4 linked regions of the Homo sapiens genome follow. The protein of the gene in region 1 interacts with the protein of each later gene in a pairwise test. Each region holds a gene or a part of one and is shown in the gene's direction. Other genes may lie near its edges.

Region 1 (7,022 bases):
GAATGAAGGCCACAACCCAGATCTCCTGGCTCCCTGTCCAGAGCTCTTTCCAAGTCCTCTGAGGAAGGCTCAGGGAATGCCCCTTTATCGCATGCCTCCTCTGGCCAGGCGCATGGCATCATTCTCTTTCACGCCTGCAGGAAGCTCTGCCCAGGCTGGCTTGCAATAGCGCCATCTCTGCTCACTGCAAACTCCACCTCCCAGGTTCAAATGATTCTCCTGTCTCAGCCTCCCAAGTAGCTGGGATTACTTTTTGTATTTTTAGTAGAGATGGGGTTTCACCATGTTGGCCAGGCTAGCTTCGAACTCCTGACCTCAGGTGATCCACCCGCCTTGGCCTCCCAAAGTGCTGGGATTACAAGCGTGAGCCACCACGCCCGGTCCTCCTTTTCTTTCAATTTGTCTACATTTTCCAGATTTCCTCTTGTGAGGCATGAAAGAAAATAAACATTTTAACACACAACTCTACAAGGCAGGTCAGGTGAGGAGGTGTAGGCTCAGAGAGGCAAGACAGTGAATCCCAGGCTGTTCAGCTACGAAGTGGCAGAGCTGGGATCTGAAAGCAAGGTTCGACCCCTTACATTTGCTCCTACCCCCACCATCTGACTTAGGGCTTAGGAGAGACCAGGCTCCACTCTGCGTGACCTTGGGCAAGTCAATTCCTCTTCCCCAAGTCCCAGTTTCCTCACCGTGGTGCCCGTAAGGGGGTTGTGCCTGGTGATCTCTGACCCTCTGCACTTCTGCAGCTGCCTGAGGAAGGAGCTGTACTCTTCTCCATAGGGGTTGGCAGGGTGGGCTTGCGTCCTGACCAGGCCTTGAAGATCCAGCCAAAGGGGCTGCCTAAGAGCGTCCAGGATAGGGCTAAGCTGGCCTCTGGCTGTGGCCATAGCCTTTGCTCTCCTCCCCTCATCGCAGTCTCTTTTCAGCTCACCCTTGAACTTTCCCCTTTTCCCACTGGTGCTCCCCATACATCAGTGCTAGCAGCTCCCTGGTGGGGGCACTCCCTATGGGCAAAGCGCTTTGCTGCACTATCTCACTGAATCCTCAGCATAGGTGGAGACAATGATGCCCATTTTATAGGTGACTTGACGTCAACTGATTTCCCAGCTAAGAAGGGGAAGGCCTAGATGCAAAGCCAGGCCAGTCTGACTCCAAGACCTGTGCTCAGCCTCACCTTGATGCTGATCCTCCTGGGCTTGTCCTCTGCCACCTGTGTTCTGCAGGTTCAGCCCAAGCCATAGGCTGACTTTCCTCTGGGCACTGTCCAAAGGTGTCAGGGAGGTATCCTTAGGGGGACACTTGCCGCATTGGGACCCTGGGAGTGCAGAATAAGGGTGAAGGAGAGTGAGAAAAGAGAGAAGGCTGTGTGTGTGTGTGTGTGTGTGTGTGTGTGCAAGTACATGCAGTGATGGGGGCAGGTGGGCGTAGCCCAGGCCTTGGCCCAAATTCTAGCAAATCCTGGGGCAGCGTGTGTGGGATGCAGCTGAGGCAGCCTGGTACATGGCTTTGCAGTCAGACAGGCCTGGGTTCAAACCCTGGCTCCGGCCTTTGTGTGACCTTGGGCATGTGCTTACTCTCTGTAAGTCTCCATTTTTTGGCTTCCGAGAGCCAGTGCCAATACTGATGTGGTAGGACTGTTACGAGCATGTAACAGGCTCAGCATAGATATTCTGTTCAAGGTCTTCCTGGGATTCTTTCTGGTTTGTTCTGGCGGGGGAGACAGGTGTGGCTGGGGAGGCTCTGGGCTGCCCCACCTCTGCCTCAGGTAGAACTCCACCTGAGCTTCCCTTCCTCTCCCTGCCCTTGGTGCTCCTGCTGGGGGATATATGAAGAATACTAGGATGTGCAGCCTTGGTCAGGATTGATGGAGGCCTCGGAGCTCCCCAAGCCTCAATTACTTCAGCTGTACAATGGGGATTAGTGGTATGGGAAGATTCAGTGAAGTGATGAATGTTGGGGCGTGGTTCAGGGCATGTGGAAGGTCTCAGCCAGTGACTGGCCCTTTCTCTAGTGACAGCATGGGGCTAAATCTCTAGAATATAGGATTTCACCAGTTAGGAAGGTAGAAAAGGAATATTCAAGAGACTCATTCAAGAATGAGCAGTAAAGTGTTTGGATGGTTTCCAGGTCTCGGTAGTGGTGGAAAGCAAGAGTGTTATATCCAGGCTCCTCAAACCAAGGAGCAGGGCTCCTCACATCAGCCCAGGAAGACTTCCTGGAGGGGGCAGGAGTGGGGGAAGGGGAACTGACAGCAGGAAGAGCTGTCACCACCTCCAACACCTGTCAGCCCAGCTGTGCTCAGCAGCAGTTAGAAGTCTCAGCCCTGCTGAGCATGACCTCACCACTAAATGTTAAAATAGGCCTCTCTGTCCAAGCCAGGGTAGGGGTGTCTGGGGGATCCAGAGTTGGAAAGAGGAAAGAAATGGGCTCGATGACCCCCAGAAGGATGTATGAAGGAAGAGGTCGAGATTAGATTTTAGGGAAGGGACTCTGTGTTTCCTGAACACCTACTGTGTGCTGAGACACAGGCTGAGAACTTTACAGAAGTTAAAGGAGCAGGAGCTAACCAGGGTCTTTCTCCCACATGCAGACAGGGAGCTAAATAAGTGCTTCAAAGGGAAGCCACGCGGGGATTAATTCAGCCTGTTCCAGGGTTTTTAAGATGCAGAGGCTGCCCAGGTAGTGCCTTCCTTGAATCCTTACAATAGCCCCTTGAGGTAGGCATTTTTACCCCATTTACAGAGGAAGAAACTGAGGCTCCTTAGATGTGTAACATTTCCCCCAACTTGTACCGTGAGCCTGCGAAGGAGCTGGAGATTCAAGCATGGGTCTCTGACCTATGTCCCAGTGTCCCAGTGCCCCAGCTCTGCCCCTGCCCTGCCCCTGCCCAGCCCTAACCAGGAGAGAGGCCCTTTCCGGGCCAGTGCAGCTCTGGGCCTAATTGGGGCCCGGGTGGCAACAGGGTGGAGAGGAGCAGATGGGTCTGTGGTTTGATTTCCCCAGCAGGTGTTTCCCAAGCTTGGCGGGAACAGAAAGGGGGAGCTGGAGGGGGGGGGTGGCCTCAGCTGCTTGTCCTTAAGACACGGGAAGGATTCATTGTCTGCCCCTCTCGGCAAAGAAAGAATGGCAAATGCAGTCTATTCAGGAGGCCCTGGGGCCCTCAAGCTGGAGCCCAAACATGGGGGTGGGGATGTTTGCACTGCTTCCCACTGTGGGCACCTCCCTGGGTTGTGGCACTGAGCCAGGAAGTCCCCTGGGTCTGGGCGGATGCCCAGCCCCGCCCTGATAAGGACCAGCTGTGGGACTGTGATGGGCACTCAGTCTAGCTGGGCCAGCTGCTTCTGTAGGGGGGCCCTTTCCCCACCCTGATGTGGTTTAGGCCCCACCCACTGCTTCCTCCTGGTATCATCCTCTGGGTGTGGTGGGGTGAGGAGCAGGTATAGGAGCCGGCTTAGGGCCCGTGGTTAAGGAGCTCTGAGCCCTTGGCCAGACTGGCTTTGGTAGGGTCTCAAGTGCCTGGGCCTCAGAGGATGGGAGTTTTATTTGCCCTTCAGAAAACAAGATTTCCCCTGAAAGCTCACTTCTCAGGTCACTGATGTTTTCCTATCAAGTACAGCAGTGCTTCACCAGGACTGGCGGTAAACTGAGGCACAGAGGTGGCTGCTAAGTGGCTTCATTGCTTTGGCCCCACATCAGGGAAAGGCTAAAGGAGGAATGATTCTCAAACTCTGCCTCTCTCTCCCCCTTTTCTCCAAGGCCAAAAGGAAGCTGGATCTGGAGGGGATTGGGAGGCCCGTCGTCCCTGAGTTCCCAACCCCCAAGGGGAAGTGCATCAGAGTGGATGGCCTCCCCAGCCCCAAAAGTAAGCAGTGCTGATGGGGCCTCTGGGGTGGGGTGGGGCAGGGGCAGAGGGCAGTGCCCTGCCCAATCACTGGTAGTCATATTTGGATCACTTTCCAGTTTACAAAAGCTTCCTGCGTATTTTATTATTTGATCCTGCCAGGTAGGTAGGCTTGTCTGTCTTTACTAATCAGGCAACTTGAGACTCAGAGAGCTTGAGTGACTTGCCCATAGTCTCAGAGTGGAGTCAGGACTAGAGCCTGGACATGTAAATCTTGCATTACTTCTGTGTTTTTTTTTGTTGTTGTTGTTGTTGTTGTTGTTGTTGTTGTGAGACAGGTCTCGCTCTGTCACCAAATGTGGATTGCAGTGGTGCCATCTTGGCTCCCTGCAACCTCCACCTCTGGGGTTCAAGCAACTCTCTCACCTCAGCCTCCCAGGTAGCTGGGACTACAGGTACATGCCACCATCCCTGCCTAATTTTTGTATTTTTAGTAGAGACACAGTTTCACCATGTTGGCCAGGCTGGTCTTAAACTCCTGACCTCAAATGATCCACCCGCCTCGGCCTCCCAAAGTGGTGGGATTACAGGCGTGAGCCACCATGCCTGGCCAGTCTCGCACTACTTCTACCATACCATGTACTGCTCTCATGATCTAAACTCAATGACCAGTGTTTTATTTGGGAATTTATTATTTTTAAAACGTTTTAATGTTTAGGTCAAGGTAAATTTTTCTAAATCAGAAGAGCAGGGGCTAACCAGGGTCTTTCTCCCACATGCAGACAAGGAGCTGAATAAGTGATTCAAAGGGAAGGGAAGCACAGATTAATCCAGTCTCTGCCACCCCAAAGGTTTTTAAGATCCAGAGGCTGCCCAGGTGGTGCCTTCCTAAAGCTAAGTTGGAGGGGGTTGCTGCCTCTTGATATTTTCAGTCAATATCCTGGATAGGCTGAGCGTGGTGGCTCACACCTATAATCCCAGCACTTTGGGAGGCCAAGGTGGGCAGATAACCTGAGGTCAGGAGTTCCAGACCAGCCTGGCCAACGTGGTGAAACCCCGTCTATACTAAAAATACAAAAATTAGCCGGGTGTGGTGGCGCATGCCTGTAATCCCAGCTACTCAGGAGGCCAAGGCAGGAGAATCACTTGAACCTGGGAGGCAGGTTGCAGTGAGCCAAGATCGCACCACTGCACTCCACTCCAGCCTGGGAGAGAGAGTGAGACTCCATCTCCAAAAAAAAAAAAAAATCCTGGTTAGAGCAGGAGTTAAAGCAACTGTGTTTGGGAGGAACACTAGTTTTGGGGGTCCAGGTAGGATTCTGCTCCGACCTGACAGGTCACTCCTGTGAACCTTAGTTGTTGTGAACCTTAGTTGTCTTGTGTAAAAGAAGACACAGCTAGATCAGGAATGGCAAGAAAGTTTCCTCTACATTTGATTGGTCAAGGCTGCCCAGAGCACTGTCTTGAAGGATCCTGAGGCTCATGATAACTGGTCCTCCTCCAGAGGAACCTAAGACTCTAAAATTCAGGTTCCAGAATTACTGGATTGGCCACTAACTTGCTATATGACTTGGAAGTCACTCGATTACAAAAGTCCCCTCGTGGTTTAAGATGCTGCAGCTGAGATGTGGTCTTGCAACATCAACCTCATTGAGAAAGGGACCTTTCTCATGAACCTCCCCGACTTGATGTTACAGGACCGATTTTTCTCAGATAATCATTGTGATTCACATGGGAAGAAAAAGCAAGTGTGTGTCTATAAAAATGCTCTTAAATCCAGGCTTATCATTTCTACCCTATTCTAATTCCAAACTCCGGACATTTAAGTGGCAGGATAGGGTAATGGTTAAGGAAAACTCTGGAGTCAGACTGCCTGGATTTGAATTCCAGCTTTGCCACTTTCTAGCTGAGTGAGCTGAGCAAATTACTTAAACTGTGCCTCAGTATTCTCATCTATAAAATGGGGATGATTGTACAGCAACCCTTACAGGGTGTTGTAGGGCTTAAATGTGTTCGTACATGGAAAGCACTTAGAACAGTGACAGTAGTTGTGGGTGGTGGTCTGGCAGCCCTAAGCTGTGGTGGAAATGTGCATTTAACCAGGAGTCAGGACACTAGGCTTCCAACACTGCCCATTGGCCGTGAGACCTTAAGCAAGTCACCTTCCCTCTTAGGTATCAGGTTCCCTGTCTGGACAGTGGTGGTGATGGATGCCCTGGCTCACACTGCTTTGTAAACTGGAAAGTGGGTGGTGAAAGGTGGTACTTAATGAGCCTAGGTCAATGGACGAGGGTCCTGGGCGGGCCCTCCCCTCCCTGAGCTGTGACTGGGTCCCTTTCTTCTTCAGCCCCCAAATCCCCCGGGGAGAAGACTCGGTATGACACTTCGCTGGGGCTGCTCACCAAGAAGTTCATTTACCTCCTGAGCGAGTCAGAGGATGGGGTCCTGGACCTGAACTGGGCCGCTGAGGTGCTGGACGTGCAGAAGCGGCGCATCTATGACATCACCAACGTGCTGGAAGGCATCCAGCTCATCCGCAAGAAGGCCAAGAACAACATCCAGTGGGTGTGAGTGCCTGGGCGGCCAGTGGTACCCTCCAATGGGTACTTGTGCTGTGGGCGGAGCCAGAGGCAATAGCCAGTGGGTGTGAGTGGCAGGGGCGGGGCTGAGAGCAACATCCAATGGGCACAAGGGCTGAGGCGGACCAAGAGCAACATCCAATAGGCTTATTGCTGGGGGTAGAGCCAATGTATGGTGAGGAAGAGCGCCGTGTACCTGCTGAAGTAATCGGAGAACGTGATGCGGGGCAGAGTGGAGAATGACATCTGGGAGGTGTAAAGGCCAAAGGGAACCTCAGATTCTTCCTCTTGAGTCAGAGATCCCAATATCCACTTCTTCTAGCTTAGGGCAGTCCCCTGGGAGCTAAGTAGGGGGATCCCGGACTCCTTCCAGATCTGAGATAGGAGTACTCCAGCCTCCTCTCTCCATTTCTACAGGGTTTAAAGAGCTGACCTATAGCCCTTGGCATAAATCCTAAGAGAAACCAGGCAGGGGAGGGAGTCAGGACTGAGGCTACTCCAGTTGGAGGAGGCTGGGGCATAGGGATGAACAGAGTCGAGAGCCCCTCAGAAATGGGGTTCAGGTCTTGACTTGTTTTTTCTCCCAAGCCCAACCCCCAAAC
Region 2 (7,022 bases), on another chromosome or scaffold:
CCTCCCAAGGTGCTGGGATTACAGGTGTGAGCCACTGCGCCCAGCTGGTGTATTTGTTATATACGTATAAACTTGCGGAGAAAGGACTGTTTTGAAACTTACATTGAATGATCTGTATTTACATCTTCTAGGTACTGGAGCTGCAGAATTGAGAGGAATAGGTGCTAGACTTGTAATGTGTCCCCTGCAATTGGGGGCTCAAATGCAGAGAAAGCTATGACCATGAGTGGGGCGTGGGGTGTGGCTCGGTATACTAGAATGTGAAATGGATAAGATGATCTATGTGGGTGCTTCCTGCTCCAAAACCATGATTCTCATGGCAGTTAAGCTGCAAAACTTCTCTGCCTTGCAGAAATAGAAGACGCTTTCAAATGGCTCAACCTGGTTATCAGAGTGTCACTTTCGAATCCTCTTTCACCCTCTGGGTAATCTTTTGGATATTCAACTGTAGTAGGCTCTGCAGAGGGCATAGGCAGAGTACCTAGCCCACTGGAGTTAGTGGTTGGGCTGGAGACCCTGCCTTGAAGGATGCTAAAGCATGAGCTGATTTGGGAGGGATTGTCTGAGCAGTGACCTGTCACCACCTAATCCTACTCAGTCTTATCCGTTCCAATGGGAGTCGAGGGAGGCTAGGTGGGAGGATGGCTACAAACAGCCATTTGCTTATCTGTGGATGTTGGAAGGTGCTCTGGTGGATTATGGAATTCAAGGTTCTTGGTTTTTACCCATGAGGACACTGAGGCCCAGACTGGGGAAGTGACTTGGCGATGGTCACAAAACACCTCTGGGCAGATGCAGGGAAATAAGTCCAGCCCCTGACTCCCAGGCCATGGGCCAGGCTGCAGGAGCTGGATGCCTTGAAGTGTCTTGTTTGCATCTATGACTTTGCACAAATACAGTGAATCTGGCTGTGGGCCCTCAAGCCTTAATGGCCACAGAGTAGTGGTGCAGGGCAGTGAGCTATGCTGAAACAGCCACCAGAGTGACGGGAACCTCGTCTGCCTATGGGGGCATTTTCTCACGGCGGGATAGGAGAACAAGGTGACATGTTAAACCCTTCTGCAAGACCATTTGCTTCTCCCAAACTCCATTTCCTCATCTGTAACCAGGAAGGGTAGTGGCTGGGAGGGCAAGGCCCTGGGGTCAGTTGGCTGGGGCTGAAAACCCATCTAGTTCTGAGAACTTGGCCAAGCTCCTCACTTTCTCCATCTGTTGAAAAGAGATAATAATGGTGTCTACCTTTGCAGGGCTGCTGTGAGGTTTCAGTGAGATAACGGCAAGAGACTCGCCCAGGAAACCGATCATTATAACCCCTGGCTCTGTCTCCCCAGGGCTTCCTACCGGTCAAGTACAGCCCTTCTGGGTTTGACACCTGGCCCCATCACTTCCTAGTTCTGTGGCCCGGGACAAACCCCTGCACATCCCTTGAGTCACAGTGTCACCATTGTAAGCTGGGATGCCGACAGGACCTGCCCCCGTGGGCGTGCGGGGAGGATTCAATGCCTGTGAAACTCTCGGTGGGCACAGCGCCGGGCACACCCGAGGGCCTGGCCTGGCGCGTTCACCGCTGCTGATTTCGTCTGGCACAGACCGGGTTCCCAAAATATCCGCAGAGCCAGCGGAAAAAGGAGCCGGGCGGGCTGGCGGGAGGGCGGGCGGGAGCCTGGGCTGTCATGACGGTGTTTCCCACCCCTTCCTCCGCGAGTGGCTGAGGCCGCGCGAGAGGGGGCGCGCCCGAGCCGGGATTCGCCGCGCCCGCCCGCCCGCCCTCCGGAGCGGCCTGGCGGCGCCGCCCCTACCAGCCCCCTCCCCGGGCCGGGCGCCGGACGGTGGGCGGCTGCGAGCGGGCGGGAGGGCTGCGGAGGACGCGCCGCCTGCGCCTCCTTCCCTTCGTGCCTCGCCCCGGGCGGCCCGGGGCTGCCGCGGTGCGCGGGTGCCGGGCCCTGCCTCGCCGGCCATGGGGGAAGGGGGCGCCGTGGGGCGCCGCCGGCCCTTCCCCGGGGCGCCGCGGCGGCGCTGGTGGCGGCGGCGAGGGCGCGGGGCGCGCCGCCATGGGCCTGGCCGGGCTGCAGGTGGGTGTGTCGGGCCCGGCCGCGCGGGGGGCGGGCGGCGCGCGGGGCCTGGCCGGGCCGGGCGGCGGGAGGGCGACGCGGGCTCCGGCCCGGCCCTCCCGGCTGCGCGGGCGGCTCACCAGAGCCGGGGCCTCGAAATATGGCTGCGGCGGGAGGCGCCGTCGCGGCGCCCGGCCCGGGCGGCCCCGCTCCCCGCCCCGCCGCGCCCTGAGCGCCCCCTCCCCCGCTTCCCCCGGGTCCCCTTCTCCAGGCAGGAAGATGTCCAAGCCCCGCGCGGTGGAGGCGGCGGCGGCGGCGGCGGCGGTGGCAGCGACGGCCCCGGGCCCGGAGATGGTGGAGCGGAGGGGCCCGGGGAGGCCCCGCACCGACGGGGTAAGCAGGCACCCTCCCCGCACCCCTGCGGCGCGCCCGCCGGGCCGGGGCCGCGAGCACATGGGCGACCCCGGGTACCCGCCCGGGGCGCCCGGCCGGGCCGCTTCCTTTGCTGCCGCCTGGCTGGGAGTGGCGCCCACACGGCTCCGCCATGAGCCTGGCGGTGTTTGACCTCGGAAAAGTTTGACTGCGCCTTCGTGGCGTCTCCGCAGCCCAAGACCCTACTTCCCCGGAGGTGGCCGCGGTCCCAGGCTGTGCGGGGCCTGCGCGGGCCCCTCGGAGAGGTCACGGGTCTCACCGCCTCGGTGTTGAATGGTCCCCGAGGCGGCGAGGGCCCGGCGTTGCTTCTGGGGACGCCCTCCTCCGTCTGTACTTACTCAGAGGAGGGGCCCCACGCCCAGAGGCGCCCGCAGTGACCTGAACCGCCCCACCGCCCCGTCCACTCTCTTACTGACGCCCAGGTGCGGCTTGCGACAAAGTGGCCGCCCCGAATGCGCTGGCTGTGGCTCCTGCTCTTCCCAGATTCCCCAGTCACCCTGAGAGAAGTCCTCCCGTCGCAGCCCTGGAGGCTGCGGGGCTGCAGTGATTTGAGAGGGGTCAGGCTCCGGCGCTCATGGGGCTCTGGCTGTGCTGACAGGCCCTCCAGCCGCCCTCAGCACCAAGTGGTTAATCAGGTTCCCCGGGGCGTGTTTCTGTGCTGAGTCCCTGCGGCTCCTGCCAGGGCAGTGAACTCCTAAAGATAGCCTAGCTCTTCACATGCCCAGGTCCTTTTGACCTCCCTGTTGCGGGTAGGCTGTCTTCTTCCTATATAGACCTTGGGTTGCAGCCGACTCTCCTGCTGGCCAGCTGTCCCCTTAGTGATTTAGAGACCAGCGCGTTTAGGAAACGTTTCACTGGACCTGGGATTCTAAACCTGCCAGTGCTCTCCTGAGACAATGGGGGCTGGCATCCCCTGGTAGCCCAGTTTTTGAAAAACGGTGTTGTCTGATTTTCATCTTTTGTATTCCTCCTCCTCGTGAATGCTCTAGGATCTTCTTCTTCAAGCCTCTTTCAGAATATGCTTTTGTCTTTTTAGGAGAACGTATTTACCGGGCAGTCAAAGATCTATTCCTACATGAGCCCGAACAAATGCTCTGGAATGCGTTTCCCCCTTCAGGAAGAGAACTCAGTTACACATCACGAAGTCAAATGCCAGGGGAAACCATTAGCCGGAATCTACAGGAAACGAGAAGGTAAGCTTTTGAAATGGCCTCGTTCTGATCCCAGCTGGTCGGGTTGCAGAAGCCTCTGTCCTCTGCAAGAATGCACATATGTATTTATCCAACCTTTTCAGTCTCAGATTCGAGAGGTTTGAGCCATGTTCTGTCTTGCTGCTGAAAGAATGGCTTGTCCCAGGGTGTGTGCCCTGTTGGTTTGACAGGTTTTCCCTGCTTTCACAAGAGTTAGCATATCCTTCAAGCTTGATTGTCTTGCTTAGTTGCAAAAATAACATACCTGACCCACAATTAGAGAGGCTCACAAGTGCTGAAAGTGCAGAAGTCATGAATTCAGGTTGTACAGACCAGGCAATTGCAGACCTAACTAATGTGTTCATGTAGGGAACTGACTTCCTTCCCTTTTATGAGCTGGCCTTGACCCCATTTCTTTTTCTTTTTTTGAGACGGATTTCCGCTCTCGTCCCTCAGGCTGAAGTGCAATGGCACGATCTCAGCTCACTGCAACCTCCGCCTCCTGGGCTCAAGCGATTCTTCTGCTGCAGCCTCCTGAGTAGCTGGGATTACAAGCGGCCGCCACCACGCCCAGCTAATTTTTGTATTTTTGGTAGAGACGGGATTTCACCGTGTTGGCTAGACTGGTCTCAAACTCCTGACCTCAGGTGATCCACCTGCCTTGGCCTCCCAAAATGATGGGATTACAGGCATGAGCCACCGCGCCTAGCTGCCTTGACCCCATTTCTAAAGTTTCCTGCCAATCAAGCATTTGGTGTTAGTTTCTGAAGCAGCATCCTATGCAATGAGATTTGGAGTTAAAATGTTAAACCCGAAAATACAGGGTTAATGAAAACGGTCTGGTCTTGCAAAACAAACTGAAACCTCTTAGACATCTTGCTCTAATCCAAATATTCCCTTTCAAAGCTGCAGTGGGGAGTGTCAGCTTTCCCCAATTCACCATGCTCTCTTCTAATTAAAACTTGTCTGAAAGAAGCAGAGCCTCTGGCTGCCAGCAGCTCCATACAAGGAAGCCTTGTGTTCGCTAACAGAAAGTGTCATAAATGACGATTTGGCATGACCTCTGGGGCCGGATCTGAGAACCAGGGCTGGGCAAGCCCTGAACTGGGGACAGGAGCCCACCCTGTGCTTGATCTCCCCTGGTACACAGGGCAATATTGTTTTATTTGATCTTCAGATGACTTGGGTTCCAATCTTAAGTTTGCCACCTGAAAGAAGGAGGCTTAGATAGGTTGCTGCTCTCTTCTGAGCCTCTGTTCTCTCATCTGTAAATGGGGAGAGAGGAGTCTGACCTCACACACACAGGACTGTTTTGAAGGGTGGTTGCAGCGTGGATGCCAAAGGGCTTTGTGGTGGACTCCATGTGCCAGCTCTTCACCCCTGGACTGCCAGCTCATCCCTGGACCTGTGGCACTTAGAATTCCTGCCCATAGGGTTGGGGAGAGGCGCTGTCTATAAATGGTAGTTGCCCGGACTCTAGTCCTTTAAAATAGGGCAGTCTATACATTGTACCAAATGGTGGCCTGGTATACAAGCTAGTATATTTGGCTCATGGTTTTACTAAATGGCCATGATTAGAATTTTGGGTCAGAGTCCGGGCATGGTGGCTCGGGTTTGTAATTCCAGCACTTTGGTAGGCCAAGGCAGGAGGATTGCTTGAGCCCAGGAGTTTGAGACCAGCCTGGGCAACATAGTGAGGCCTCATCTCTACAACAATGAAAACAAAAAAAATTAGCCTGGCATGGTGGCATGCATCTGTAGTCCCAGCTGCTTGGGAGGCTAAGGCAGGAGGATCCCTAGCACCCAGGAGTTTAAAGCTGCAGTGAGCTATGATCATGCCACTGCACTCCAACCTGGGGAACAGAGAGAAACCCCATCTCTAATATAAAAATAAAAAGAATTTAGGTCAGCTGGACTTTGGAGACCCCAAGGTCCAGGCTGTGGTCCGTGATTCTGCTGTGATACAGACTGAGTGATAGATAATGTTCACGGGCACCACACACTCCTGGGCCTGATGTCCTGGCTTTAATTCTCTCTGATTTCACCCAGGAAGGTGTGTAGAGGAGGAAGAAAGATCTGGATGGTTTTAATGGTTTTTGTTTGTTTTTTTTGAGACACAGTCTCGCTCTGTCTTGCAGTCTGGAGTGCAGTGGTGCAATCTCGGCTCACTGCAACCTCCATCTCCCGGGTTCAAGCAATTATCCTGCCTCAACCTCCCAAGTAGCTGAGATTACAGGTGCCCGCCACCACGCTCGGCTAATTTTTTGTATTTTCAGTAGAGATGGGGTTTCACCATGTTGGCCAGGCTGGTCTTGAACTCCTGACCTCAGGTGGCCCACCCGCCTTGGCCTCCCAAAGTGCTGGGATTACAGGTGAAGTCACTGTGCCCGGCCTAATGTATTTATTTATTTTTCTGTTTTGTTTATCTAGATATAGTTAATATATCATAACGTTCATGTTAAAGCGTATGAGTCGGTGGTTTTTAGTATATTCACAGGGTTGCGCAACCATTACCACAGTCTAATTCCAGAACGTTTCCATCACCCCAGAAAGGTACCCATTAGGCGTCACCTTCGATTCCCCATCCCTCTAGTCCAAGGTAACCATTAAAGTACTTTCTGTCTCTGTGGATTTGCCTGTTTTGGACATTTCATATGGATGGAATCACAAAATACATAGCCTTTTGTGTCTGGCTTCTTTCACTGAGCATCATGTCTTCAAGGTTCATCCGCGGTGTAATAAGTATCAGTGCTTCATTCCTTTTTTTTATTTTTGAGAAGGAGTCTCTCTCTCTCACCCAGGCTGGAGTACAATGGTGCAATCTTGGCTCACTGCAACCTCTGCCTCCCAGGTTCAAGCTATTCTCCTGCCTCAGCCTCCCAAATAGCTGGGATTATAGGCGCACACCACCACGCCTGGCTAATGTTTTTATATTTTTAGTAGAGATGGGGTTTTACCATCTTGGCCAGGCTGGTCTCGAACTCTTGACCTCAGGGGAGCCACCCTGCCCAGCCCTTCATTCCTTTTTATGGCTGGATAATACTCCCTTTTGTGGATAGGCCACATTTTGTTTATTCATCTGTTGATGGACATTTGGGTTGTTTCCACTTTTTGGCTATTACAAATAAACTGTTACGTTCCTGCATAGATTTTTTTGGGGACATATGTTTTTAATTCTCTGGAATAGATGCCTAGGAGTGAAATTGCTGGGTCATATGGTAACTCTGTGTTTAACTTTTTGGGAAAATGTCAAACTGTTTCTAAAGTGGCTGCACCATTTTATATCTGTGAGCAGCGTACTATTTACTTAATTTTTTTTTCTTTTTTTTTTTTTTTTTGAGACAGAGTC
Region 3 (7,070 bases), on another chromosome or scaffold:
GTGTGTGTCTGTGTCCAAATTTCCCCTTTACATAAGGACACCAGTCATATTGGATTAAAGCCCACTCCAGTATGATCTCCTCTTAACTAATCATATCTGCAATGACCCTATTTCCAAAGAAGGTCACATTCTGGGGTACTGGGGCTTAGAACTTCAGTATACGAATTTTAAGGAGGCACAAGGTGTCCGTGACAGTGCTGTGTTAAGTGACTGGAAGGATGAATTTCCTTTTTCACTTGCACTTTCTTTCTTGAAGTTTTGTTTGAAGCTGCTTGAAGACATCTCTGCATCCTGTCTTATGTGGATGCTACTCCCACTGCAGAGATTATTCGAGAGGTTGGAAAGGTTGGAAAAGAAAGAGAGGATGCTTTTGAAGGGAGAAGGGTAAGAGTACAGACAAGGGAAGCTGTATTAGTCTGTCTGTTCCCACACTGCCAATAGAGACATGCCTGAGACTAGGTAATTTATAAAGAAAAAGAGGTTTAATGGACTCACAGTTCCACATAACTGGGGAGGCCTCACAATCACGGCGGAAGGCAAGGAGGAGCAAAGTCACAGCAGGCAAGAACATTTGCAGGGGAACTCCCCTTTATAAAACCATCAGATCTCATAAAACTTATTCACTGTCACGAGAACGGCACAGGAAAGACCCACCCCCATGATTCAGTTACCTCTCACCTGATCCCTCCCATGACATACGAGAATTATGGGAGCTACAATTCAAGATGAGATTCAGGTGGAGAGACAGCCAGACTGTATCAGAAGCTTTGCCAAGAAGACCCGGAGAGTAGCAGGAACTCTCCTCTGTTCTTTGGCATTACCCTGTGAAGGCTGTGTGGCTCACCTGGGGACTGTGCCTCTGGCAGGAAAGTCTTGTGCTGTCTGCTCCTGAGAGAAGGCATGGCTTCTGGAATGAGATGATCAGTAGCACAGATGGGCTGAAGATGAGACGTTACATTCCACATTCCCAGAACCATAATATCCCCCAGATTCCTCTGTGTCCTTAAGGAGAGAAAGTCAGAATGAGAACTGACATTTGATTTCCTGCTACTCTAGAGAAACAAGAAATGGAATTTGTTAATTTTTAAAATAAAAAAAGTGAATTTTCTATATTTATGGAATGTGTGATTACAAATTCACATAAACTTCCTTGTCTAATTTTTTTTCTTTTCTTTTTCTTTTTCTTTCTTTTTTTTTTTTTTTGAGACTGAGTTTCGCTCTTGTTGCCAGGCTGCAGTGCAGTGGTGCGATCTCGGCTCACCGCAACCTCTGCCTCTGGGGTTCAAGCGATTCTCCTGCCTTAGCCTCCCGAGTAGCTGGGATTATAGGCATGTGCCACCACGCCTGGCTAATTTTGTATTTTTAACAGAGACAGGGGTTTCTCCATGTTGGTCAGGCTGGTCTTGAACTCCCAACCTCAGGTGATCTGCCTGCCTCGGCCTCCCAAAGTGCTGGGATTACAGGCATGAGCCACCACACCCAGCCCCTTGTCTAATTTTTTAAAAAAAATTCAAGTGTGGGTCTTGAGCTTCCCTTGATTTTCTGTCTAGAAGAGAAGTGTCAGAACGGCTATCTGCTTTCCCAGCTTCTGGGCCATTTGCTGCAGCACTGAGTCGCCAGCCTGCTTCGCATGAGCAGGGAAATTTTGCCCATCTAGGTAATCAGGAAGAGCTTGTTCAATGAGTGAAGGGTGAGTCATACTGCATTGGCACAAACTCTTGGCAACAATGAGTGTCCTTTACAATGGGCTCTATGGGACAGCCCTCTGGGGGAGATGGGCCAGCCAGACCTGAGTAAGGGGCTGGACTGAAAACTGACAGTGACAGGTGGAAGTGAACTTGAGAGACCCAACAAACTTCTTGTTGGAGAGAACTAGGACAGCTGCTCAGAGGCAAAGCTCAGAGTAGAGGATTTCACTCAGTATTTATTGAGCACTTATTATGTTCAAGGCCCTAAGAGGGAATATGTAGAAAAATGCTGTTCTCTAGAATCGTAAGATCTAAGCATCAGAAAGTGAATGCCACAAACATTAAGTGTGGCAGATGCCATGATCAACACAGACAAAGACTAAGTATTACACCAGCTCAGAGATCAGAGATCTAGGGATGGGGAACTCCATGATAGGCCGGGAAGTCTTTGCAGGGAAATCTGCATCTGAGTGCCTTTTGAGGCCTGCTGCAAACAAAACTTTCAATGCCAGTGTCCCCTCTCACTATCTCCCCAACAATGGTTGCATTCACAAAGACAGAGCAGGGGAATGAAGTCACATGTATTACCACATGAGCAATTACAAGTCTCAGTTGGGTCAGGGCATTTTTGCACCTTAACTCTCTTCCTGCAGCCCCAGATGCTCCTTTGCAGTCCCCCAGCTTGAGTGTTATACGTCTGTGTTCCATGAGAATGCCTGCATCTTAATACAGACCCCTTTATTGTGGGGAACACAGCACAACGTCTGTGCATTTGCAGTCACCCACCTGTGCATCCCCTGAATCCTTCATTCATAAGTAGTACTCAACCAGGAACTTCTTTGGTATCCCAGCTCGGACACGGGAGGTGTGAATATATTTTTCATAAAGCCCAGGCCTTTATGCAGAACGATTTTCATCCTCTAGTGAGAGGCTGAAGTAACAAAGTGCTGTTGTTAAGATTCTTCCCATTGTGCATTTTTCTTGAATAATGACATTTCTAAAAAGAATCTGAAACTGAGGCATTAGAAGGCAAGTGCTCGTTCATATATTTGAAGAGGTCAAATATTTACCAGAATAACTTCTCAATACAGAGGGGACAGCTTTATTTTATTTTACTATAAAGATGTATGTGTAGCAGAAGACAAATTATGCAGAGCTTTGAGTTAGTTAAGAATCATCTGATTTAATTCTTTGGAGAAATGAGACAAATTGTAGCTAAGGACTATGGAGTTGTTTTAGTTTGCCAGTTATATTTAATTTGACTATTTCTTTATTTATTGAGAGACAAAGTCTCACTCTGCTGCCCAGGCTGGAGTGCAGTGATGCAAACACAGCTCACTTCAGCCTTGACCTCCTGGGCTCAAGCAGTCCTCCTGCCTTGGCCTCCCAAAGTGCTGGGCTTACAGGTGTAAGCCATGGCACTTGGCCTATTTGACTTGTTTAATCCCTCCGAAGAACTCATACATACTATTGCCACCTCATTTTCCACGTAAGAAAATGGAAGCACGAAGACCTTAATAACTTGCTTAATGGCTAGTAGGTGGTAGAGCTTGAATTTAGACCACACAGTGTGGAGGGTATGCTATTAAGGAAAAACGATGTTCTAGTGGGGTTTCCATTTAATATTGCAGAAAAAAGAATCTATATATTTAAGAAGGTGTTATTTCATGCACACTCGTAGGTTTTGTTCATATATGCACATCTGACGTATAATTTAACATTTGTGTAACTTCAAGCTTCTATGGGGAGTGGCAGAAGATGCAGGAATTCTATTAATACCTTCGCAGATCTTAGATTCCAACAAGCTGGATACCTTAAGAAAAATAAAGAAATTGCTGTGCTTGGATCCCAGATGTCCATTCCACCTTTTGGGACCTCCCGGGGGGCCCTCTTTTCTTCATCCTTCAAGACAAGGATAGTGGGGTGAACAGACAGACTTTCCTTGCGAGGGTTGGCTCAGGAAGGCTCTGGGCTCATCTCACAGCCGCCCCAGCGAGGGTCGGGGAGGCAGGTGCTGGCTCCGGTGGGGTCTGCGGCAGAGCAGGACTGGAGCCCAGGGCGCAGCTGCACAGCTCAACGCCGGTTCGCGCCCTGGTTTACAGCGTTGGGCTGGGTCACCCCTTCTTTCCTAGCTTGCTGCTGTGTGTTCCCTCGGTGTAGGAATCAGGGGAGTGTCTTCTGGAGGCCACTAAAGCAGGAATAGCATTTTCATGTTAGCGTGCACGGGCGGTCTCCGCAGCCCCTCCTCGTGCCGGAGCCTGTCCTGGGGCCTGCGGGGCGGCTCCGGGCCTCGGGCCGGCGCAGGCGGGCGGCAGGGGGCGCTGTGCGGCTCGGCGCGGGGGCGGGGCCGGGGCCGAGCCTCCCGCGTGCCCGGCCTCTGTGCGCGCTCGCGCCCCGCCCGCGCAGCCGCTTCTCCCCGCGCGGGCTCTCGGCAGGCGGGAGGCGGCAGGGCTGGCATTGCAGTGCGGGCCGTGCGGGCTGCGCGGGCGCGGGGAGGCGCGGGCGGCAAACTGCGGGCACCCGGCACCCCGCAGCCAGTACCGGGCGGAGGCGTCAGAGCCGCGCACCGCGGACGAGCAGGCCCAGGTAGAGTGACGCGCGTCCCCTTTGTGTCCGCATCGCCCGGGCCGGCCGCGGAGCGGGGAGGGCGGGACGCGGCGCTGCGCGGCCGGCCTTGGGGCTCGGGGCTTGCGGCCGCGCCTGCCCCGCTGGGTCCTGCCCCGGCGCCCGGTGGCAGCGGGCGGGGGGCAGCGTCCCGGGCGGGGACTCGCGGGCTCCGTTCAGAGGACGCCCGCCCTGCCCTGCCCGTGTCCCTGACCTCGTCCCTGCTCTGCTCCTGCCCTGCCCTGCCTCTCGCAGGCGGCGCCCGCGCCCCAGGGCAGTGGGCGCTTAGGGACCTGGCGTCCCCCTGCCTGCCCTGCGCGGTCGCGGGTCTGCGCTGCGGCGCGGGACAGGGCGCCCCGGGCCAGGGTCCCGCGGGCGAGCTGGCGGCGGGGGCTTTCAAGGTTCGCGGCCCCGCCCGCAGACCCTGGGGCTGGAGCCTCGGCCCCAAGAGGAGGTCTGGGAAAGGACGACGCGTCCGGGGCATCGCCACCGGCGGGGAAGGTCGGAACTGGCCAAGAGGATGCCCCGCACATCCCCTGCGCGCGGGGTCCGCGGCTGCTACTGCCCCTGGTCCCCACCGCGAGCCCTTTCCCGGGGAATGAGCCGCCGCCCGAGCCCCGGAGTTCCCTGCGGGTCTTACCCACCCCAGCCTCCGGCCGCCGACCCCAAGCCCCCTGCACTGTGCTTGGCTCCCAGCTGTTTGGTCGCTTATGCCATCCTGGAGGCTTCCTGGTCCTGGGGTGAAGGGGTGACTTCTTTACCCTAATGGTCTTCGTAGGCAGGTCTCAGGATGTCCACTCCAAAGTTCGTGGTCTTTTTTCTAGAGAATAATAATTTTTAAAATCCATTGAACTGGCCGGGCGCGGTGGCTCACGCCTGTAATCCCAGCACTTTGGGAGGCTGAGGCGGGCGGATCACGAGGTCAGGAGATCGAGACCACGGTGAAACCCCCTCTCTACTAAAAATACAAAAAATTAGCCGGGCGCAGTGGCGGGCGCCTGTAGTCCCAGCTACTCGGGAGGCTGAGGCAGGAGAATGGCGTGAACCCGGAAGGCGGAGCTTGCAGTGAGCGGAGATCGCGCCACAGCACTCCCGCCTGGGCGACAGAACGAGACTCCGTCTCAAAAAAAAAAAAAAAAAAAAAAAAAAATCCATTGAACAAACATCCTGCGCTGCCTCCTGCAGGATCAAGGCTGGGGTAACAGAGGAGTGAGGTAAGGCCCCAGGGAACTATCCCCAGTGGATCCCTGCTGCCCTGCGGTGAGAGGGGGTCTAGCTCCTGCACTAAGAGCCTGGGAAGAAAACACTTCCCGTAATGGGGCCTGGGAGATGGAAGGAGGACATGCCCCAGTGAATGGGGCTGGGGTTGAGAGTTGAGCCTGGCAGATAAGATGGATTTGTAAATGAAATGCCAGGTAGAAAGTAAGTTGGTGTAGACGCCTGTGGAGCTGTGGGAGCCCCCAGGAGGGAAGGGAGGGAGTCAGGGTGTCCCTGCAAAGGGAGTCCCCTTTGCAAGGGAGGGGGTGTCTGAGTCAAAGCTTGCAGGTGGGGCAGGTCAGAGGTGGCAGGAAGGGCCTCTGTCCAGAGAGAGCTGCTCCAGCGCAGGAAGGGGGAGGGACAAGGTGTGTGACACCGTGAACTTTCCCAGGGGATTCACCCAGTGGCTCCAAAGGAGACAACAGCCTTTTTTATTGTATTCTCTTCTCCGGTACTGAGATTAGGGAACCTTGTTTTTTGCACTTTTCTAATGCCTTTTACATTTTTGTTTTTATTTTTAAAGCGTGCAAAGGAAATGTGACTAGAGGGGTCAGAAGAGGATAAATCATGAAATCTTTGAATTCTAGGCCAAGACTTTGGGTTTGACTCTGTGTCAGTGGGAGCCATTGATGGTTTTGGAGGAGGAGGGTGATCTGAGCCCTGCTTTAGAGTGATTTCCGCGGTGTTGCGTGGAAGGGAAGGCATGGTGTGGTGTGCCTTACTGTGGCTTCCGAGTCAGACCCCCACTGGCTGTGGGCTTCCACCTGCATCAGGCATCAAAGGCTGTGGATGGATTGAGGACCTCATGAGAAAATGGGTGCAAATAACCCAATTTTAATGGGATGGAAATTTTCCAGACCCAGTGCAATTTGATTTTTGCAGTTTGTGTTTTTAAAGAGCTCCCGATTCTAATGTCAGCAACTCTGGAAGAGGAACTAATGAAGGGCAAACTCAAATGCACGATGCAGGCACCCCCAGGTCATCTGTGCCATGAGGATTTGGGAAACTCAAAGAGCATTGTAAAATGCATATATTTTATAAATAGATTCCAGTGCCCTCAGCTTGCTAGTTGGTAATCCCTGTATCCAGACTGTTGCTAGAGTAAGTCACGTCTCCTGGGGATTCAGTGTGGTTTGGGACTTTGAAGGGACCTCACACTGTTTGGCTGAAGCTGCTGAGGTTCAGGGGTAGAAGTGCCACTCTGGCAGGCGGCGGCAGGGTTGGGAGCTACAAGCTACGTTGCCTGCCTCTGAGAACATTCTTTCCCCTGTGGTCCACCACGTGGCCCCACTGCCTACTTTTGTTCACATTTCTCCCTCCTGGAAGCCTTTCCCTCTGGGGGTAGAGATGGGAAGGAAGCCTGCCCTTGGAGACTGACAATCACAGAACCAGGTGGGCCAGCACCCACCTGGCCTATGAACCCTTGTTGTAACCATGGGAACCTCGTAGCTTGGAAAGGAGGGGTCAGGTAGCCCAGGCCACATGAAAAGCTGTGGCTGGTCCAGCCCTGGCATCAGCTTT
Region 4 (7,022 bases), on another chromosome or scaffold:
GTATTTTTAGTAGAGACGGGATTTCACCATGTTGGCTAGACTGGTCTTGAACTCCTGACCTCAGGTGATCTGCCCGCCTCGGCCCCCCAAAGTGTTGGGATGACAGGCGTGAGCCACCACGCCTGGCCTGGAGGTGTATTTAAAAAGCATTGACCCCTGCCTCTGTTAAGTGAAACACTTCCATTTCCCCTTGCCCTTCACCTCCGGAGCCCCCAGGCAGGCAAGGCTGGGGGAGTTCTTCCACCCCTTCTCCAGGCGCCCTGATTCGCTGACTGTGTGCCAGTGAGGGGCCAGGGTTCTTGGGAGCCCACCGTCTTAGCAGGAGCTGGCTGCTGTGTGCCCCTATTGGGTTGTGTCTCTACTCTCTGTATCTCTGTCTCTTTGTCCCTGTCTCTGATGCCTAGTCTCTGTGTTTCTTTGTTGCTCTAATCTCTCCAGCATCCCCTCTTCTCTCCCATGTCTGTGTTGGAGTCTCCCCAAGGGTCCAGGGTGGGGGTTGGGAGTCCCCAAGGCCTGGGATGACCCCTCTTCCCTCCTGCACCCCGTATCAGTACCCAGATGGCGTCTTCTATGACCTGGACAGCTGCAAGCATTCCAGCTACCCTGATTCAGAGGGGGCTCCTGGTGAGTGACCCCAGCCCTGTGCCCTTCCTGCCTTGGGGCCCATTTCACAGATAGGGGAGCTGAGGCCCAGGGGAGGTCATTTCCTAGCACAACAGGATAAAGGTGGCCCGGGCCTATAGCCCTCCTCCCCTTTCCTCTCCTACCCATCCGCTCCTCCATGCAAATCCTGGGGTCAGAGATTTGCACAGCCTACAATGGCCTCTCTGTGCTGGGGGCTTCGACTGCGAGGAGGCCTCCGTGAGACATCCCAGCTTCTGACTCAGTGCCCTTCCCCCAGACTCCCTGTGGGACTGGACTGTGGCCCCACCTGTCCCAGCCACCCCCTATGAAGCCTTCGACCCGGCAGCAGCCGCTTTTAGCCACCCCCAGGCTGCCCAGCTCTGCTACGAACCCCCCACCTACAGCCCTGCAGGGAACCTCGAACTGGCCCCCAGCCTGGAGGCCCCGGGGCCTGGCCTCCCTGCATACCCCACGGAGAACTTCGCTAGCCAGGTGAGTGGTAAGGGGACAGTTAAAATCAAGCCCAAACCAGGTGTGGTGGTGCACGCCTGTAATCCCAGCTGCTTGAGAGGCTGAGGTGGGAGGAGGATTGCTTGAGCCCAGAAGGTCGAGGCAATCCACTGCACTCCAGTCTGGGCAACAGAGCAAGACCCTGTCTCAAAAAAAAAAAAAAAAAAGAAAAAGAAAAGAAAACTCAAGCTCAGTCATTTGGTTGAGGTTTGCTGGGTGCCGGGCACTGCATTGAGACTGCACATAGTAAGCCCTGCAGCGGCCTCCCAGGTTACGTTCCGTTGTTGCCCCTCTGAACAAGTGAGTCAAGAGAGGTAGTGACAGGAAGCCAGGGACAGGGCAGACTCGCATTACCTGTGTTGGGCCGGCTTTGAGGAGGTACCTCAGGTGTCCCCTGGCCACAGCGTGGTGATCTGAACAAAGGCCAAAATCTAGGCTGTCAACAAAGAGGGAGACCAGAGCCAGGAGGGCCACCGCCTTGGCCTGAGAGGAGGAAGTGGAGGGAGACAAGGGGTCCCTGGACATGCAGGTGACCCTGACCTTCCGCAGACCCTGGTTCCCCCGGCATATGCCCCGTACCCCAGCCCTGTGCTATCAGAGGAGGAAGACTTACCGTTGGACAGCCCTGCCCTGGAGGTCTCGGACAGCGAGTCGGATGAGGCCCTCGTGGCTGGCCCCGAGGGGAAGGGATCCGAGGCAGGTATGCGGGAGTGGCTGGGGTGGGGGAGATGCCAGCTGGAGATGGTGGGGGGGCTGAGAGCACCATGGCTTCCTGGGCCTCTACATATACTCCAGCACTCTGGGCAGCTCCCAGATCCGCACCACCTGCTGGCTGTGTGACCTTGGGTAAGTGCCTCTACCTCTCTGTGCCCAGGTTTCCTGTCTGTGCGATGGGGATGGAGGTGATAGTGTCTACCCTCCTGAGGTCGTTGGGGGGACTAAATGGGATAGTAAGTGTAAATGGGACAGCAGTGCCAGGCACAGAGTGAGCACTTCAATAAGTCAACCTCTTCACCATCATTCCCGACACCACAGCAACAGAAATGATAATGCTATCAACCCCCAACGGTTCAACCCTTGCCCCCTGCCCGTGTGCCCAACATCCTTTATGCTCAACCCCAAGAAAGCTGAGATCGTTCCTTCCTTTCTGTGTCTGGGCCTCGGTTTCTCGTCTGTAAAGTGGGCATCACTGTCATCCTCCCCATCTCACGGGGTTATGATGGAGATTCAATGAGCTCATAACTGTAAAGTGCCTTGTGAAGCACCTGGCACTACATGCTCCACGGTGCATTGTAAAAATCAACACACAGGCTGGGTGTGGTGGCTCACGCCTGTAATCCCAGCACTTTGGGAGGCTGAGGCGGTCAGATCAACTGAGGTCAGGAGTTCGAGACCAGCCTGGCCAACATGGCAAAACCCCGTCTCTACTAAAAACACAAAAATTAGGCTGGGCATGGTGGCTCATGCCTTTAATCCCAGCACTTTGAGAGGCTGAGGAGGATGGATCACGAGGTCAAGAGATCGAGACCATCCTGGCCAACATGGTGAAACCTCACATTTACTAAAAATACAAAAATTAGCTAGGCGTGGTGGTGTGCACCTGTAGTCCCAGCTACTCGGGAGGCTGAGGCAGAAGAATCGCTTGAACCCAGGAGGCAGAGGTTGCAGTAAGCCGAGATCTTGCCACTGCAGTCCAGCCTGGCGACAGAGTAAGACTCTGTCTTAAAAAAAAAGAAAAAAGAAAGAAAAAAAAATTAATGGGGCATGGTGGTACATGCCTGTAATCCCAGCTACTCAGGAGGCTGAGGCAGGAGAGTTGCTGGAACCCAGGAGGCAAAGGTTGCAGTGAGCTGAGATTGCACCACTGGACTCCAGCCTGGGTGACAGAGCAAGACTCCGTCTCAAAAACAAACAAACAAAACCACAGCCTCATTTAAAAAATTTTAATTAATTAATTAATTTATTTTTTGAGACAGAGTCTCGCTCTGTTACCCAGGCTGGAGTGCAGTGGCACGATCTCGGCCCACTGCAACCTCCACCTTCTGGGTTCAAGCAATCCTCCTGCCTCAGCCTCCGCAGTAGCTGGGATCACAGGCACCCACACCATACCCAGCTATTTTTTGTATTTTTAGTAGAGATGGGGTTTCACCATCTGGCCAGGCTGGTCTCAAACTCCTGACCTCAGGTGATCCGCCCGTCTCGGCCTCACAAAGTGCTGGGATTACAGGCGTGAGCCACTGTGCCCAGCCACACAGCCTCATTTGTGGCTGAGAGACTTCAGCTCAGAGAGGTTAATTAAGTCACCTATTTTAACTTAGGACATTTAAGATGGAGAGGATCTCTCCAATGACTAGGAAAGACACAAGATGGAAATAAAGATTTTATTTATTTTTATTCATTTATTTGAGACGGTCTCCATCTGTCACCCAGGCTGAAGCGCAGTGGCGCAATCTCGGCTCACTACTGCCTCAAACTCCTGGGCTCAATCGATCCTCCTGCCTCAGCCTCCTGAGTAGCTAGGACCACAGGCGTACACCACCACACCTGACTAATTTTTAAAATTTTTGTAGAGGTGAGGTCTCGCTATGTTGCCCAGGCTGAACTCCCAACTCCTGAGCCTATGTGCTCCTCCCACCTCAGCCTCCCAAAGTGCTGAAGTTACAGGCATGAGCCACCACACCCAGCCAGAAATAAATTATTTTATGGCTTATAGGTCCTGGGGCATACATGGCACGCCTGGAGGCCACACACACCAGGTCAGGGAGCGCAGGCAGGGAGGGAGAGAGAGAGGGACCAGTGGACTGACGCCTTTATTGGGTCCAAGGCGTCGGCCAAACAGGTTTCCTGAGGGGGTTTTAATTGGTGGGTTCAGGCCAGGCACAGTGGCTCATGCCTATAATCCCAGCACTTTGGGAGGCTGAGGCTGGTAGATCACCTAACGTCAGGAGTTCAAGACCAGCCTAGCCAACATGGTGAAACCCCGTCTCTACTAAAAATACAAAAATTAGCTGGGCCTGGTGGTGCACGCCTGTAATCCCAGCTACTTGGGAGGCTGAGGCAGGAGAATCGCTTGAATCCAGGAGGCAGAGTTTGCAGTGAGCTGAGATCATGCCACTGCACTCCAGCCTGGGCAACAGAGCAAGACTCCAGCTCAAAATAAATAAATAAATAAATACTTGGTGGGTTGAAAGCAAGCAGGATCAAGTTCCAGGAGGTCACGCTGTGCCTGAGAGGGGGTCACTGAGGCATCTGCACAGTCCATGCAGGGCCGTCAAGTAGGCTGTCCATGGCTCTCCCACAGGGAGGTGGTCACCAGGAGTCAGTTGCATAAGAGAGATATCTGGGTCAGCCACACTGAGGAACTCGGGGAGGGAGATGTAGAACTGCCAAGGAGGACAGCCCTGCTTCCAGCATGAGAATGTCCAACTTTTATTTAGTTTTATTTTATTTTATTTTGAGAGGGAGTTTCGCTCTTGTTGCCCAGGCTGAGTGCAATGATATGATTTCAGCTCACTGCAACCTCTGCCTCCTGGGCTAAAGTGATTCTCCTGCCTCAGCCTCCCAAGTAGCTGGGATTACAGGCATGAGCCAAGCACACCCAGCTAATTTTTGTATTTTTAGTAGAAACCGGGTTTCATCATGTTGGCCAGGCTTGTCTCGAACTCCTGACCTCAAGTGATCTGCCCACCTTGGCCTCCCAAAGTGCTGGGATCACAGGCATGGCCCACCGCGCCCAGCCTCCAACTTATACTTTCGATGAATGCCGAGGCAGCCTAAAATTATAAGAATTCAATCCGGGTGCAGTGGCTCACACCTGTAATCCCAGCATTTTGGGAGGCCGAGGTGGGAGGATCACCTGAGGCCAGGAGTTCAAGACCAGCCTGGGCAACATAGTAAGACACCATCTCTACAAAAAATAAAACAATTAGCTAGGCATGATGGTGCATACTTGTAGTCCCAGCTACTGGGGAGGCTGGGGCAGGAGGATTGCTTAGGCCCAGGAGGTCGAGGCTGCAGTGAGCTGTGATTGCTCCTCTGCACTCCATCCTGGGTGACAGAACGAGACCCTGCCTTGAAAAAAAAGAAATTAAGATGTCACTACGTCACCACCCCAAGGTCACACTGCTGTAAAATGGCAGAGATGGGATTCTTGTAGCCAGTGCCCTGCTTTGAAACTCCCAGTTATTGGCCGGGCGCAGTGGCTCATGCCTGTAATCCCAGCACTTTGGGAGGTCGAGGTGGGCGGATCACCTGAGGCCAGGAGTTCGAGACCAGCCTGGCCAACATGGCGAAACCCCGTCTCTACTAAAAATATAAAAATAAGCCGGGCATGGTGGCAGACGTCTGTAGTCCCAGGTACTCGGGAGGCTGAGGCAGCAGAATTGCTCGAACCCAGGAGGCAGAGGCTGCAGTAAGCCGAGATTGCGCCATTGCACTCCAGCCTGGGCCGCAGAGCAAGACCCCGTCTCAAAAACAAACTAAACCCTAGGAGCCCAGGAGTCAGGTGCCCTGGCCTCTCCCGGGACCCTGTCCCGCTTTGGGCTGAGAGGCTGGGAGACCAGGAGCTGGAGAGATAGCCAGGCCAATGCAACTGCCTCCAGATCTGTTCGCCTCTCCGTTATAATCCTTTAAGCGGCGCTGTCAACCCATTTCACAGATTCTTTCATCCACTAGCTCAACAAATATGGAATATTACGTGCTGGCCGCAGGGCGGAAGGCAGGACAGATGTAAATCTCGAAAATTAAAGCACAGAACGCGGAGGGGGCCTGGGGCTGACAGCTTCGGGCAGGGGGAGTGGCTTGCCCCCCCCCCCCCCCGTGGTGAGGGGCGCAGAGCCAGGTGTATGTAACAGCCACTTCCCTCACCCCACTTTTCAGATCCAGGAGATGGAGGCCGGGGTGGAAGTCTCGGAGGAGGGTGGATGGGGAAGGCGGGGCCTTAGGGACCCCTCACCTAACGCGTGCCCCCGACCCCACCGCAGGGACTCGCAAGAAGCTGCGCCTGTACCAGTTCCTGCTGGGGCTACTGACGCGCGGGGACATGCGTGAGTGCGTGTGGTGGGTGGAGCCAGGCGCCGGCGTCTTCCAGTTCTCCTCCAAGCACAAGGAACTCCTGGCGCGCCGCTGGGGCCAGCAGAAGGGGAACCGCAAGCGCATGACCTACCAGAAGCTGGCGCGCGCCCTCCGAAACTACGCCAAGACCGGCGAGATCCGCAAGGTCAAGCGCAAGCTCACCTACCAGTTCGACAGCGCGCTGCTGCCTGCAGTCCGCCGGGCCTGAGCACACCCGAGGCTCCCACCTGCGGAGCCGCTGGGGGACCTCACGTCCCAGCCAGGATCCCCCTGGAAGAAAAAGGGCGTCCCCACACTCTAGGTGATAGGACTTACGCATCCCCACCTTTTGGGGTAAGGGGAGTGCTGCCCTGCCATAATCCCCAAGCCCAGCCCGGGCCTGTCTGGGATTCCCCACTTGTGCCTGGGGTCCTCTGGGATTTCTTTGTCATGTACAGACTCCCTGGGATCCTCATGTTTTGGGTGACAGGACCTATGGACCACTATACTCGGGGAGGCAGGGTAGCAGTTCTTCCAGAATCCCAAGAGCTTCTCTGGGATTTTCTTGTGATATCTGATTCCCCAGTGAGGCCTGGGACGTTTTTAAGATCGCTGTGTGTCTGTAAACCCTGAATCTCATCTGGGGTGGGGGCCCTGCTGGCAACCCTGAGCCCTGTCCAAGGTTCCCTCTTGTCAGATCTGAGATTTCCTAGTTATGTCTGGGGCCCTCTGGGAGCTGTTATCATCTCAGATCTCTTCGCCCATCTATGGCTGTGTTGTCACATCTGTCCCCTCATTTTTGAGATCCCCCAATTCTCTGGAACTATTCTGCTGCC

What was found.
Region 2: the proteins of E2F2 (region 1) and KMT5A interact in a two-hybrid assay, tested with the Homo sapiens proteins (one study listed by BioGRID).
Region 3: the proteins of E2F2 (region 1) and RNF144A interact in a two-hybrid assay, tested with the Homo sapiens proteins (one study listed by BioGRID).
Region 4: the proteins of E2F2 (region 1) and SPIB interact in a two-hybrid assay, tested with the Homo sapiens proteins (one study listed by BioGRID).

Annotation. Positions count from the first base shown.
Region 1 is NC_000001.11:23,521,223-23,528,244, reverse strand, and holds part of E2F2 (transcription factor E2F2), read left to right. Parts: exon of another isoform or gene 1-840; intron 841-1,174; exon of another isoform or gene 1,175-1,315; intron 1,316-3,466; exon of another isoform or gene 3,467-3,656; intron 3,657-3,756; coding exon 3,757-3,862; intron 3,863-6,188; coding exon 6,189-6,408; exon of another isoform or gene 6,409-6,659; coding exon of another isoform or gene 6,660-6,673; intron 6,674-7,022. UniProt on the Homo sapiens protein: Transcription activator that binds DNA cooperatively with DP proteins through the E2 recognition site, 5'-TTTC[CG]CGC-3' found in the promoter region of a number of genes whose products are involved in cell cycle regulation or in DNA replication.
Region 2 is NC_000012.12:123,387,111-123,394,132, forward strand, and holds part of KMT5A (N-lysine methyltransferase KMT5A), read left to right. Parts: intron 1-1,800; exon of another isoform or gene 1,801-1,957; coding exon of another isoform or gene 1,958-2,072; intron 2,073-2,322; coding exon 2,323-2,444; intron 2,445-2,926; exon of another isoform or gene 2,927-3,232; intron 3,233-3,519; coding exon 3,520-3,676; intron 3,677-4,164; exon of another isoform or gene 4,165-4,320; intron 4,321-7,022. UniProt on the Homo sapiens protein: Protein-lysine N-methyltransferase that monomethylates both histones and non-histone proteins. Specifically monomethylates 'Lys-20' of histone H4 (H4K20me1).
Region 3 is NC_000002.12:6,913,349-6,920,418, forward strand, and holds the start of RNF144A (E3 ubiquitin-protein ligase RNF144A), read left to right. Parts: upstream 1-4,063; 5' UTR 4,064-4,274; intron 4,275-5,053; exon of another isoform or gene 5,054-5,334; intron 5,335-5,445; exon of another isoform or gene 5,446-5,506; intron 5,507-7,070. UniProt on the Homo sapiens protein: E3 ubiquitin-protein ligase which accepts ubiquitin from E2 ubiquitin-conjugating enzymes UBE2L3 and UBE2L6 in the form of a thioester and then directly transfers the ubiquitin to targeted substrates.
Region 4 is NC_000019.10:50,421,922-50,428,943, forward strand, and holds part of SPIB (transcription factor Spi-B), read left to right. Parts: intron 1-551; coding exon 552-624; intron 625-901; coding exon 902-1,116; intron 1,117-1,683; coding exon 1,684-1,834; intron 1,835-6,116; coding exon 6,117-6,415; 3' UTR 6,416-7,022. UniProt on the Homo sapiens protein: Sequence specific transcriptional activator which binds to the PU-box, a purine-rich DNA sequence (5'-GAGGAA-3') that can act as a lymphoid-specific enhancer.